2 linked regions of the Homo sapiens genome follow. The protein of the gene in region 1 purifies or fractionates together with the protein of each later gene. This does not show direct contact. Each region holds a gene or a part of one and is shown on either strand. Other genes may lie near its edges.

What was found. Proteins that work in one complex are often made in the same cells at the same time.
Region 2: the proteins of MARK4 (region 1) and PNMA2 purify together in Homo sapiens (co-immunoprecipitation; 3 studies listed by BioGRID and IntAct, with this or other methods). This does not show direct contact.

The regions. Positions count from the first base shown.
Region 1 is NC_000019.10:45,247,106-45,254,284, reverse strand, and holds the start of MARK4 (MAP/microtubule affinity-regulating kinase 4), read right to left. Parts: upstream 3,015-7,179; 5' UTR 2,697-3,014; coding exon 2,646-2,696; intron 1-2,645. UniProt on the Homo sapiens protein: Serine/threonine-protein kinase. Phosphorylates the microtubule-associated protein MAPT/TAU. Also phosphorylates the microtubule-associated proteins MAP2 and MAP4.
Region 2 is NC_000008.11:26,510,853-26,518,266, forward strand, and holds the start of PNMA2 (paraneoplastic antigen Ma2), read right to left. Parts: upstream 3,021-7,414; 5' UTR 2,964-3,020; exon of another isoform or gene 1,976-2,963; intron 1-1,975. Other genes in the region: DPYSL2 (dihydropyrimidinase-related protein 2), read left to right, coding at 3,474-3,827.

The sequences.
Region 1 (7,179 bases):
ACAAAGCCCCTGGGGGCCGGGGGTGGGAGCTAAAATTGGCCTGCACCACCAGCTGGCCTGGCTCCCTCCCGCCCGGCTGGCGCCCCAACACCCGGGACTGTTGCTAGGGAACCTGGGGAGGCTGGCCCCCTGGTGGGGGGCCCTGGAACTTGGGGTGGGGGAGCATGACCCCACGTGGCTGTAGCCATGGTAACCAGGTAACAGGAGAGGGGGCTGCAACCTCCCATTCCAGAGGCAGGCAAGTGACTCCCCACCAGGACTGACAGGCAGGTCTTAGTGACAAGAGTTGGAGGAGAGAAAAGGGGATTAGCCATCCTCAAATCCGCACCATGCACGCATCTTAACAACCCAGGGAACAGCAAGTCTTCATTAGGCGTTCCACTTAACAGACAAGGAAACCAAGGCTCAGAGAGGTAAGGTTACTTGCCCGAGGTCACACAGCTAGGGAGGGACAGAAACAGGATGTGAACCCAAGTTTATCTGAACAATTAAAGTAGTGCTAATAACCACAACAGCCACGACACATGCCAGGCCCTGTGCACCTTAGTCACATCACGTCGCTGGCTCCTGCAAACATCCCTAACAGTGGGGGGCCATCATCAACCCGATTTAGAGATAAGGAAACTGAGGCTGCAAGCTGGGAGTGAATCTGCAGGCTCACTCAACAACCAATAACAGCCCTGAGCTGAGAATCCACGGGCTGTCTGACTCATACCCACAGCCACAATAGCAGCTGGCATTTGTGGAGTGCTTCCTAGGTGCCAGCCTTCGCCTGAATCGAGTAAGCCTTGGAGGCACTCAAGCGGTCACCCCTATTTTCCAGGGCAGGAAACTGAGGCTCAGAAAGGGAGAACTGGTTGTCTGAGGACACAAGGCAAACCAGCTGGCCATGTCAGCATTGGAACCCAGGACTGTGGAGCCCCTGGCACCTCACTGTAGATTGTAGTGACCAAGGAACAGAGGTGGTAGGCATTTCATTAGACTCCAAATTGGAGTTCTGGCCCATAGTGATGATGCGGGGTGGTCTCTGTGAGGGAGGGATCTGCAAGATGAGGAAGGGACAGATATAAATCTCTCTGATGGTGTGTGTGTGTGGGGGGGTCTGTCGGAGGTGAGGGAAACAGGGGGAAGGGGAACAGGGACCTGGCAGAAGGATTTGGAGAAAGCCACAAAGATCCCAGGTGGGGAGAAGTCTAGGATTGGGTGGTGGGCAGGTCTTTGGAAGTGATCAGTGATCAGAGACACAGGAGATGGGGAGGGGCCTCTCTGGGAAGCAGTGTAGGGGCAGGGGGCGCCTGGGAATGGTGGAAAGTGACAAAGCCATGGGGGCAGTGGAAGTCAGAGGCCAGGAATCCCTGGGTCTTGGGGAAGCTCCTAGGAATCAGAGAAGGGGGCTTCTAGGAGAAGTCCTTGAAACCAGAGAAGGGTCTGGGGGGCCTGGAAGTATGGGGTAGGAACTTCTTGGGCAAGGAGCAGCCCAGATGAATAAAGGCTGAGCCCTGGGGAAGGTCAAGGGGTCTAGAAATTTGGGGAGAAAGCTTCCAGCAGATTGACCCAAGGGAAAAGGGCTTGAAACCAGGGCAAGACGAGAGGCTTCAGGTCCAGGAGTTTTCTGGAAGAAGGATCTGGGGCCAGGCCCTGTAGCTGAGGAAGGCCTCTGAAGCTGAGGAGGGGGCTTCCTTGGAAGGCCAGACTCCCAGCAAGGAAGGGGGAGGCCCTGGGGCAGGAGAAAGGACGGTGGTTTGTGGGGAAGGGGTCTGAGTTTGGCCTAGCAGGGGGTCCAGAGGTTGGGGGTTGGGGAAGGGGCTGCCTGAAGCTGAGAAGTTGATAGAGGGCGGATGAGGCCTGGAGTCAGACTGGTCCAGGGCCTAGAAATACCAGCCTGGGTGAGGTGAGGGCCTAGAAGTTGGAGGCCAAGGCTTCCTGGGAGAGGAAGAGACCAGAAAGGGTCCAGGTGGCATCTGGGGGCCCCGGGGTGCTGGGATCTAGGGACAGGGCTGCTTGGAAGATGGGGACCAGGCCTGGGACGGGAGAGACCTTGAAGAAGCCAGAAAAGGGCCGGGGCCCAGGAGAGGTGGAAACCAGCTTCCTGCCAGGGGCTGCCCACAGGCGCCCTGGGTGCGTCCTGGAGGGGCAGAGGGCTGGGAATAAGAGGAGGGGGGCTCCTGGGGAGCCGGCACCCAGCCCCAGACAGGGAAGGCCGGAGCCAGAGGCAGGACTGGGCCAGGCCCTGCTGAGAGTGCCAGGGCCGGGCCTTGGGGGGTCAGGGGCCCTGCAAATCCGGGAGGGGGCGAGGTGTCGGACGCGGACGGCCTGGAGGGGAAACGGCTTAGCACAGGCAAGAGAAGGGAGGGGCTCCTGGAAGCAGGGGAAGGGGCTTCCTGGAGGGAACAGACCCGAGCGGAAGCGGTCTGCACGGGGACAAGAGAGGGGTCCCGAGAGAGGGGCGCCCCCAGGGGTCGGGCTGGGCTGGAAAAGGTGGGGAGGGTGGAGAGGCCTGGAAGTCCGGGAGGGGTCGAGAGGTGACGAGCCGGGTCGGGCCCAGGAAACGAGGGTAGGGGCTCGCGGGGCGAGGGGTACAACGGGGAGAAGGGTTTGGCGGCTGGACCCAGCCAGGGCTCCCCAAGGGGCCGGGCCCCACTCACCGTGTCCGAGTTCCGATCGTTGCCCGGGGCCAGCACCGTCCGCGAAGACATCTTCTCCGGGTCCCGGGGGGCAGGGGCGGCCGGGTGGGGGGGGCGGGGGTCCCAGGGTCCCCTCTCTTCCCCTCCCCCCCCGCCGGCCTGGGGACGCGAGCTCAAAAGCTGGGCGCCGAGAACGCCCGGGTCCGCGCGGCGGGAGAGGGGGCAGGGCGGGGGAGGGGAAGGGACGCCGAGGGTCCTAGTGGCCCCGTGCAGCGGGGACCCCGGGCGCCATGGGGGCGGCGGGCAGGCGGGCGGGCGGGGGCCGCGGAGGGGGCGCGGAGCCGGCCCAAGCGGCGGCGGAGGGAGGCGGTGGAGGGGCTGGGGAGGGAGGAAGGGACGTCAGGGGGAGGGGCGGGCAGGGCGGGGCGCCGGGACCCCGCCCCCCGCCGCCGGCCCTTAAAGGCGCAGGCCCGGGCTGGTCGGGGCGCCGGGGGCTCCGGGGGCTCCGGGGGCGGAGGCGGGTCTGGGCACGCCGGCGGGGAGCGTGTTCTCGCCCGAGACGAGAGGCGCACTGGAGAGGAGAGAAGGGGAGAGAGAGGCCGGGGCAGAGCGCCAGAGACGCAGAGAGAGAGATCGAGAGACGTAGAGATAGAGAGACACGAAGAGAGAGAGACGAGTTACAAAAGGGTGGAGAGGCGCAAGGAGATGAAGGAAGAGCCAGATGACAGAGAGAGAGAGACGCAGGGAGACAGAGACAGAGAGACCCAGAGACGCAGAGGGACAAAGACTGAGAGAGACCCCACACACACACAGGGAGAGACAAAGAGATACAGAGACGCAGAGATCTGTGAAGAGATAGAGATAAAGGGACTGAGCCAGAGAAGACCCCAGAGGCGCTGCCCACATTGTCCCTCCCCCTGGCCCATTCTCTCCCCAGTTGGCGGGGGGGAGCGGGGGAAGCTCTCCCCTCGGAGGCCTAAGGGTGGGGTGGGTGAAGGGGATGGTGTGCGGGGCTTGGCCACTGCTGAGGGCTCAGTGACCTCCCTAGTCAGGCTGCCTCCACTCAGCCACATAGATCCAGACCCGCAGGTTGGGGCTGCAGCATCCACTCCTTTGCACCCCAGCTGGGGTGTGGGGACCCTCTCTGTCCACCTGTATGACCCGGGGCAAGCACTTGCCCTTTCTGGGCTTCACTTTCCCAGTTTGTAAAGTGAAAGGAAGAATCCGTGTGTTGCTCACTGGCAGGTGCGAAGGAACCCTGTGCAGGTATTCGCCTGCAGGGCACAGCCACTCCCCATGCGGGCAGGCTGAGACCAGAGAGGACAAGAGCCTCTCGGAGGCCACACAGCGCTGTGGGGACCATCCATGCTCTGTGGACCAGGGTGGGATGAAAGAAAGACAGGCATTACATAGTCTTGGCCTGGGAGTCACATGGTTTTGGGAAGGGGTCTGTGCCCTGCCTTCTTCTATCTGAGGCTTATTTTCCTGAGCCTCAGTTTCCCCTTCTAAAACAGCAGTGTGCTGGATCTGGCTGGAGCGAGCTGATTGTTATGTCTCAGGAATTTTGGAACTGGTTGTTAAACACAGCCATTATTAAAAATTAAATTATGCAAACATACAATTAAATTACATTAAAGGTACAAGTAATACATACTCATCACGTCCTAGTTATCTTACTACATTTGCCATTATCTGTGATCTTGAGGTTACCTACGTCTATTGTAGCTGCACAGTAAAATTACTATATAATGGGGGGCAAAAATGCCATGTGATATCACCTTGGTAGCTTGAAATTAGCCATGGTGGGAATATTTACACCATGGAAATTGGCAAATGCTACAAATTAAGGCTCCACACCCCCACCTGCAGAGAGCTGGGGGTGTTTTGTTTTGCTTTGCTTTGTTTTGTTTTTGAGACAGGGTCTCACTGCATTACCCAGGCTAGAGTGCAGTGGCACGATTATGGCTCACCGCAGCCTGGACATCCCCGGCTCAAGCAATCCTCCCAGCTCAGCCCCACCAAGTCACTGGGACTACAGGTGTGCACCACCACGCCCAGCTAATTTTTTGTAGCCATATTGCCCAGGCTGATCTCCAACTCTCAGGCTCAGGCGATCCTCCCACTTCGGCCTCCTAAAGTGCTGGGACTACCCTGCACTCAGCCAAAAGCTGGTTGTGAAAGCACAGCACTGCTTGATACTATGAGCAACACAGACTCATGGCAGTTGCCCTTGTGCCAGGCTCTGAGCAGTTTCTCCTTTCTGCCACCCCAAGAGGTAGGGAGCATCTTTATCAATCCCATTTGCAGATGAGGAAACAGAGGCCCAAGGAAGGGAGAAACGTCACACGCTGAAGGTCACACGGCAAATTAGTGGCAGGGCTACAATTTGAATCCAAGTGCTCCCAAGTTCCAGAACTTGGACCCTCTCTCAACCACTGTGGTTTCCTGTCTCCGAAAAATAATAGCAGCAACCTCAGGCTGCTACTATTTTTATTTGTCAATTTGTTTATATTTATTTGTTATTTTAATGTTACTGCTAACAAATAAATGAGAATCTTTGAGTAAAGTGCTTCACAGGGGACCAGATTCAAAATTCATATGTGGGGACATTATTATTACTATTTGGCAAATATGGCCCGAGGAGCCTCAGGGACAGTGGCAGAGAGGGTGGAGTTCCGGGGTAGTGTTCTAGACGTACTGTGATCCCAGGGACGCCGCAGGGTGAAAGTGGGGGTCTTGGGGGTAGGCTAGAGGGGCTGAGCGCCCCCAACCCGTTCCCTGCATTGGCGCTGAGAGCTGCAGTTCTACCGTGCACCACACGGGGGCAGCCGATCACCTCCCTACACGCGCCCCACACACTCCAGGGTCCACCCCTGCCCTCCCTTCCCCAACAGCGTCCCCACCCCATTTCCCAGATGTGGGGGGACCGAGGCTTACAGAGAGGGAGGCTGCAAAGTGGATGAACCTTGAAAACAGCATGTGGCCGGGCGCGGTGGCTCACGCCTGTAATCCCAGCACTTTGGGAGGCCGAGGCGGGCGGATCACGAGGTCAGGAGATCGAGACCACGGTGAAACCCCGTCTCTACTAAAAATACAAAAAATTAGCCGGGCGCGGTGGCGGGCGCCTGTAGTCCCAGCTACTCAGGAGGCTGAGGCAGGAGAATGGCGTGAACCCGGGAAGCGGAGCTGGCAGTGAGCTGAGATCGCGCCACTGCACTCCAGCCTGGGCGGCAGAGTGAGAATCCGTCTCAAAAAAGAAAAAAAGAAAACAGCATGTTTAGCGAAAGAAGTCAGACGCAAAAGACCACTTACTGTATGCTTCCATTCATATGAAATATTCAGAATTGGCAAATCCATAGACAGAAAGTAGATTAATGGTTGCCAGGGGTTGGAGGCTGGGGAATGAGAAATGACTGCTGATGGGTACCAGGTTTCTTTTTGGGGTGATGAGAATGTTCTGGAATTAAATAGTGGTGACGCTTGCTGCAACCTTGTGAATATACTAAAACCTACCGGACTCTGTTTGAAAAGGGTGACTCTTATGTATGTGAATTGTATTTCAATAAAAAATAATAATAAAATTTAAAAAGGGGGCTGGACGCGGTGACTCACACCTGTAATCCCCGTACTTTGGGAGGCCAGAACGGGAGGATCACTTGAGCCCAGGAGTTCGAGACCAGCCTGGGCAACATAGTGAGACCCTGTCTCTAAATCAAAATAAAAAAAATAATTTTTAAAAAGGAGGGGGACGGGCACGGTGGCTCACGCCTGTAATCCCAGCCCTTTGGGAGGCCGAGGCGGGCAGATCACGAGGTCAGGAGATCGAGATCATCCTGGCTAACACAGTGAAAACCTGTCTCTACTAAAAAAAATACAAAAAATTAGCCGGGCGCTTGCAGGTGGCAAGCGCCTGCGTCCCAGCTACTCGGGAGGCTGAGGCAGAAGAATTGCTTGAACCCAGGAGGCGGAGGTTGCAGTGAGCAGAGATCACGCCACTGCACTCCAGCCTGGCGACAGAGCAAGACTCCGTCTCTAAATAAATAAATAAATAAATAAATAAATAAGGCGGGGTGGAAATCCTGCACGATCCCAGTACATGATGGGCCACTGCTGACCATGGGTCCGCGGTGCAGAGGCCGAGCTGGGGGGCAAGGCCTGTTCCTCTGCCTCCCGACCTGGTCATCCAGCTAGCCCTTCCTCCACAACCTATGTCTGGTGAATTCATTCCTTCAACTGGGGCATTCAGACCTTTGAATCTTAACCCTTGGATCCAGGAGGGAGCTGTGATCCCTAAGCCCAGCCCCCGATCCTAATGTTGACCCCAACCCTGATCCCAGCCTGGACTTTGCCTAGGCCAGTGATCACGCATCCCCCTCAGGCTGTGCCTGAGCACTTGAACACAGTTTATCTTATTTATTTATTTGTTTGTTTGTTTATTTGAGATGGAGTCTCACTCTGTCTCACAGGCCGGAGAGTGCAGTGGCACAATCTCGGCTCACCGCAACCTCTGCCTCCTGGGTTCAATCGATTTCTTCCGTCTCAGCCTCCCGAGTAG
Region 2 (7,414 bases), on another chromosome or scaffold:
CGTAAAAAAGTTAGAGTTGGCCAGGCGTGGTGACTCATGCCTGTAATCCCAGCACTTTGGGAAGCCAAGGCGGGTAGATCACTGAGGTCAGGAATTCGAAACCAGCCTGGCCAACATGGCCAAACCCCGTCTCTACCAAAAATACAAAAATTATCTGGGTGTGGTGGCACGTGCCTGTAATCCCAGCTACTTGGGAGGCTGAGGCAGGAGAATCGCTTAAACCTGGGAGACGGAAGTTGCAGTGAGCCACGATTGCACCACTGCACTCTAACCTGAGTAACAGAGCAAGACTCTGTCTCAAAAAAAAAAAAAAAAAAAGTTAGAGTTCCTAATACCTCCCAGTTACTGCTGCGGAGTGTGTGTTAAGGGGCTACAACCATTTCCCCCTTGGCCTAAACATCTTCATCAATTCGAATGGGGGCCATACGCCACAGTGCTGTCCTGTAACTCTATCAGCAGTGCTCCTGCTGTGGGAAGATCTCCTGAGTCTTCTGGGAAGTGCTGAAGGCACCAGGGGTGCCAGAGAGCCAGGAGGGCAAAATGCTGCTTCACCCCTGTGCCCAGGAGCCCCAGAGACCTGAGACTGCTGACTTCTCCATGCCTGACTTTTCCTTTCTAAAATGTGGGGACTGTGGGGGAGGGCCAGGTGCAGTGGCTTACACCTGTAAACCCAGCACTTTGGGAGGCCAAAGCGGGAGGATCACTTGAGCCCAGGAGTTTGAGACCAGCAACATAGTGCGACCCTGTCTCTACAAAAAGGAAAAATAAAAAAATTAGCTGGGCGTGTGGCACTCGCCTGTAGTCCCAACTACTTGGGAGGCTGAGGAGGGAGGACTGCTTGAGCCGAGTGGGTCAAGGCTACAGTGAGTTGCGTTTGCACCATTGCATTCCAGCCTGGGTGACAGTGTGAGACTCTGTCTGAAAACAAAAACAAAAATAAAAAAACCAGCTGGGGGCAACCTTCCTCCCCACTGGGATATTTAGAGGAAACAGGGAATGTAAAAAGACACTGCCCAGGAAAAAGCATCTCTATGGTCTACAGAATGACTGCTATGCTGAAGTTAGGCTATCTTCAGATGACTCTTCCTCCCAGTGTGACCTGCAGTGTTACCTTCAAATAAAAACATGGCAAGAAACACCCTTGATATACAATAGGGCCATGGATGGAAATATCTGGATACGGTAGAAATAGAAGAACCTTGTATTTTCTCACATAAAGGGGGTCACAGGACAAGCTGGAAAAGAAGCCAGACTTTGAGGTGGAAGACTCCCACTGGAATTGCTGGATCATTTAACTAAATACCCAACCTTGGCTATGCGCCCCAAGCTCTCTAAATCTGTTTCCTAACCTGGAAAGCAGTGCTGATAAGGCACGCATCTCACAGTGGGGCTGTGAGTAGGAAATGATGTAATTCAGTTGGAAGCGCTTTTTTCAAATGCTTTATTCAAATGCAAAGCACATCTGCCGCTAAGTCCAAAATGCCCCCTCCGGTTCTCTCAGCCCCTCCACTCCTATATTCTTCTTCCCCAGTCTGTTTCTCATCCGGAGACGCCTTTCCACCTATCAAGATGGGCTGATCTTCAAATTGCGACTGATTGTCCAGCAGATGTAACTATATTCACCAAACTATCTCTCACAATTGGACTGTGGGGGTGGTTGGTAACCGCATTTAATCCTGGGCTGACAATGGGACTGGATCCCTGGTTACACGGCCCTACGCGGTGGCCCTGCGGTAAACGGCCTCTCAGCCCAAACCCACCCTGGTTACTGAGCATGCCCAGAACTCCCTCCCGGGCCACCAAAGGAGGGGCACCATTTCTGCAGGATTTTGCCACTGTGGAAAGAGAGGCGGAGCTGTCATCGCGCAGAGGCAGGGACTGATACGCGGAAAGGACGTGGAGATGGGAATAAGCAATGAAGGACCAGCATTGACCGTGTTAGGCACACAAATCTAATTGCCCCCTGGTTACTTACCAACCCGGTGGCCGTGGCTCAGCTACTGCACACACACACCAAGTTCCTACACACCTTTCCCCTGCTTGGCCCCACACAATTCATGGCACTCACAGCCCACATCCTACCTCCTACTCCGCACCAGATGCGCACCCGCACTTACTCCCCAAACACGTGGCATCTGGTAACCCGGGAAACGCTGCGACTGTGGCGCAGTGCGCAACAGGGGCGGGGGAACCAGGCGGGGCTCTGGGGCGCAGGGGAAAGCTGGAGATTTGGGAAGGGGGTTTCAGTTTGTTTTTTCTCTCTTTTTTTTTTTTTTTTTTTTTTTTTGGTGGAGGAAGCAGAATAAACCAAATCGCGACACGTTCCTGCGCCCTTCTTGGCGCAGTGGCGCAGACACGGTCCATGGCGCCTTGCGCAATAGAGTCGGTCTGCACCCCGTCTTTAAGTCGTGGCCCTGGGCTGGAATTCCCGACTGCACTCTTTGCTACACCCCCATAGACCGCAGACCTGCGTCTCTCTCTATATTCCTCTCCCATCTGCTACGCCCCTCTGAATTTCTTCCCGCCATGTTGTGTGCCCCCCCCCCACTCCCCCGTCACCCCAACCACACCAAAGTGGATGCACGAAGCGGGAACCTTCTCGTTTCAGTCTCTGCTCCCTGCAGCCTGCCAAGGCGAGTGGACAAACTGAAGCTGGGGTGTCCAGCGTCTTGGCTGCCCCCCTCCTGTCCACCCTGCCTGTGCTATCCTTGCTCATCTTCAGTGCCATCCCGCTTCCCACACCCTGAGTAGCCTGGCGCCCGGCTTGTCCCCTTTTCCCATCCATCAGCTCACACCCAGGGTAACGGGGCGGGACCCCTATCCACAGTGCGCCCTCGCCCCCGGCCCACCTCCGCCATGCGGCGGGGCAGAGGCGCCTGGGCCAGGCAGGTGGAGGAGAGGGGCACTGGGGCTGGGGGCTGCGTCCTCCGGTCCTCACTCCGCGTGCCCTGCCCGATACTTACCCAGGCGCGGAGAGCGGTCAGCGGGCCCTCCGCTCCGCATCCATTAGCTGGTGGTCTGGCCGCTTCACTTCCGGAGCGCGGGGCTAGGGGCGGTGCCGCCCTCCCCTCTCTCTCTCCTTCCCTCCCCTCCAGCCCTCCCCTGAGCACCGCTCCCCTCCCCGGCGCCGCGCCCCGCCCGCGCCTCCCTCCTCCCAGCGCTGCCGGGAACTGGCAGCCTTTCGGCTCCCGCAGCCGCAGCGGACGCCCTCCCAGATCCAACTTTGCCGCTTCCCCGAGCTCGCGCTGTAGCCGCGGGGGGCGTGGGCAGGGAGGGGAGAAGCGGGGTCAGGGGGAGGGACCGGGAGGGTGGGTCGCCGGCTCGCCAGCCCTCCTTCCTTTCTGTGCACCTTGCGGTGGGCGGCGAACGGCAGCCGCGGCAGCAGCTAGGGGGCTTGTGCACACAGCGAGGGAGACTTAGGGACTGGCAGACGGACGGACGGACGGCGAGGACCCTACCCGAGCCCCCGAGCCATGGCCGAGAGAAAGCAATCCGGGAAGGCGGCAGAGGACGAAGAGGTCCCTGCTTTTTTTAAAAACCTGGGCTCCGGCAGCCCCAAGCCCCGGCAGAAATTCTGTGGCATGTTCTGCCCGGTGGAAGGGTCCTCGGAGAACAAGACCATCGACTTCGACTCGCTGTCGGTGGGCCGGGGCTCGGGGCAGGTGGTGGCTCAGCAGCGGGACGTCGCCCACTTGGGCCCGGACCCGCAGCCGCCGTACTCGCGGCAGGGCCGGCGCGCCGGCGGAGAGCCATCTGTTGAATCGGGCCGGAAGGTGGAGATCCGGAGGGCCTCGGGCAAAGAAGCCCTGCAGAACATCAACGACCAGGTCGGTGTGGGGGTTGGGGGTGGAGACGGAGGACGGGGCGCGGGGATCGCCCCTCCCTCGCCCCTGAGCCCGGCGCGCCCGCCTTCATGCCCCGCCCTGGACCTCGCCTCCCGCATCTGCACGCGCACCCCGCCCTACCCGCCCCTTCTCCGCGCAGGGTGCGGCGAGGCTCGGGCTGGGCGGTGGGCGGCCGTGCGCCCACAAAGGCTGCCCGCGTCTCCTTGAGCTTGAGAGGTGGGGCGTGGGCATAGGGAATGGGCTGATCCCCTGCTGGGGCGGGCGGTGGTCGTCTGGGAGGGGGTTGGCCGCGGTTCCATTCTTCTGAAACCCTCCCGGGCGGCTTCCGATTGCAGCTGCGGCTGGGTGCCCCACCCTTTTTTTGAGCGGCTCAGAGCGTGCGGTGGAGGCTTTGCGTGAAGGCCCGCGGCTCCCCGGTGGTCGGGAGGGGCGGGGGTTCGGACGGCCGCTCCCTACAGCCTCCGCCCGCGCCTTCTGCGCTCACGTCCCGAGCTCCGAGGCCAGGACCATGGTCAGCGCCCCCCGGACCCCCTCCGAGCACCGCACCGCCCTTGACTCCTGCTCGCAGCGTGAGAAGAGCCAGGAAGGCTGTGGAGTCACCCGAGGAAACCGAGACGCTCCTAAATAGCCTATGTGGGGAACAAAGTTCCAATAAGTGTCTCAGCCGGGGCTTCACAGAGCGCTCCCCAAACCGCTATGTGGGAGGCGCTTTAGGAAGCGGGGAACTAAGTGGATTATGTTCAAAGGGTCAAAAAGACAAGAAAAGGGGGAAAACCCCTCGCACTCGAAATAGACTGTCGAAGAAGACTAAACCCCCTTTTATTGTGTTAATGGGGGAAACAAAGGCCAATTTGGTCACGCTTGATTTTAGAAAATGTTTGTCACTTTCTGACAAATATGAACAGTGAGCATTTTCAGCGCAGTAATAATCTCACACCACAATTCTTTCTTTATCTGAGTGATCCTTACACTAGTGTAATTCTTTTCCACAGCCTTAATTTCTTAACTGATAATTTACAATGCAAAATGTTTTAACACGTTTTCCGTTTCTCTCCCATGCCTGCTGGTAAAAATAATAAGTCAATCAATGAATGATTGTTGATTGAATACCTATTGTGCGCCTTGCCTTGTAGGGCAGAGGGAAGGTTAGTTATAGAAAGTGCAAGAGGTTTCTTCTTCTCAGAGGGCTTCCAGAGTAGTTGGGAGTGGTCTATACATATTCAGCGAGGGATTCCACAAGCATTTACATTTGTGTACTTACAGTGACAGCCTTTGAGAACAATTCAGAATTGGTGATGATGGTTGGGGCATGATTTGACTGTTTGCTGATGTGACATAGAGTTTTGCAGCTTTTGACTTTTGTAGGGTCAAGTCTAGGAAAAACAAGGCATTTGCTGTCATTTGTAAAAGGTGACACAACTAATAATTTATATCCAACCCCAGCCCTGCCCTCTAATTTATTCATATAAGGGAGTGTCTCATATCCATATTTCACTATGAGTCAACCAGAAGAAACTAAATCCAAAAAACTTGCTTTGTTCCAAGTGATCAGACAATTGAAGTAAAAGTTTCTAATAATGTAACTTATACTGAAAGCTGAGTGAGTGTGTGTGAAACACTTCCCTGTGTGAGTACATTGAGTGAGGGCCAAAATCATATAGCATCTTGGTTGAGTGAGTAGCCTCATGCATGGCGAGTTGTGCTGGTGATTGTGATGTCCTAGAGAAAGCAGAAAAACAACTGGAGAATAAAGAAGAAATCATGTAAAAAGTGGCAGATCAGAGGATAGGGGTTGAAAGTGGCCCACCCCTATCATGAATTAGAACTCAAGTTTGAAAGGCATAGTTTTATCGGGTTGAATAACACTTCTTTTTTCTTGGCCATTTAGAAGCTTAGATATATGAAATTCTAAATTGTAAAACTAAGGCACGCAGAGGGGGAGATTTGAAGAGAAAATACTCAAACAAACTGCAAGGGAGTTTTAGATTGCAATTCACATTGATTTCAGTTGCCCAGTTATTAGTAACAGAGGGCGATTCTAGCTTGGCCTTTCTGCAGCACCTTCCCCTGAATTTTCATGTTTAATCTTGCCTTATCATATAAGGCCTACTCAATGAGATTTTGTCATTCACGACTAAGAGCATTTACCTGGATCAGTACTTGCAATGTTTCAATATTTCATGTCTTTAGAAAAGGGGAAAGGCTGTGGCTATACATGTGTTTATATTTATAACAATGTGACTTCCGAAAAGCTCAACTGGCCCACCATTTTGACTGAGTTGACTTGTCATTAGTTGGTTTTCAACGAATGAGTTGGGTGAGTGCCAGCATCTCTGTGCATTCTAATTGGAAGCCCTGACGCAGAGAAAGGTGGGGGAGATTGAGAATGGGTGGATCCTGGGACCCTGACTCACACCATCCCTCCTCTCTTGCAGCTTTATTTATGTGTTACTAATGTATGGTCAGATGTGGCTTTGCTCATCTGTTGCACTAAGAGGCCTGCTGTTCCCCTAACAAGGCTTTGGGAAGGGAGAGAATAGGCTTCCTTGACCCACATGCCACATGGCTCATGGAAGATGAGAGATGTTGGACATGTGCATTTGCAGGAACTAAATGAAATTATATTCAGAGTATGAGCCAGACAGCACCAGAAAGCGATGGGTGTGGCTTGACTCGGCATGTCAGATTTTGGCGGAGGAAAAGAGCTGGCATAGTGGTTGTGAATGAGGAAAGCCTCTATCTTGTTACTCTCTTTTTCCTATAAGTCCACTTTGGGCTTCAGTGAGGTTACATTGATCACCACTGTGAAAGACTCTGAGCCTCTTGGAAGAGAGAGAAGAAAGGCATCTCTGTTGGCCCAATCCCCCCTTGTCAGTGCCCAGGGGTCCTTCAGCCTCTTCCCTTCCTCCTAGGAACTTCCTCCATTCCACTCCAGACACAGCGTAGCCAGAACCAGTGGCTCCACCAGCAATACTGGACCATAAGAATGCTTTTCAAAGGGGCCTCTAGGCCCTTTTCCCAGCAGCAAACAACCTATGCAGGCTGGAGTGACAGGGAGTGATTCTCCTCCTCTCCAGGGCAGGTGCCGCTGAATGAACTGCACAGTGCTGCTGAGCTTGGCAATGTTACTGAGTCTGTGAAGTGCTTTCTGGTGCTCCCTTCCATCTGGGTCCCCATCCCTTCTGCCTGTGTTGAATCTCTTCTGGCCCTGGGAGCCCAGTGCTGTGCTGCCCTCTAACTGTACAACGTCATCCCTACTCCATCCCCATAGCATGCCCCTTCTAGACCTTTCTTCTTCCAAAGGGCAACAGGTTCTAAAATCAGTCTTGGCTTCCCTTCTCCCATTCAGAATTCTTAACTTGCATTAATCTTAGTTAAAGAGAAATTCCAATGATTAAAGCCATCTGCTCCTCAGGCAAACAACTGATGCCCAAGTTGTCCCCAGAGATCCGTGTCTGATAATAGACTAGCCTGTTAAACAAAACGAATGTGTGGTTAGTGGGGTGTGTGGTGGAGATTTGGAATAAAGGCAATACCTTGATACTTTACAGGTCATATTGGTTCAAAAC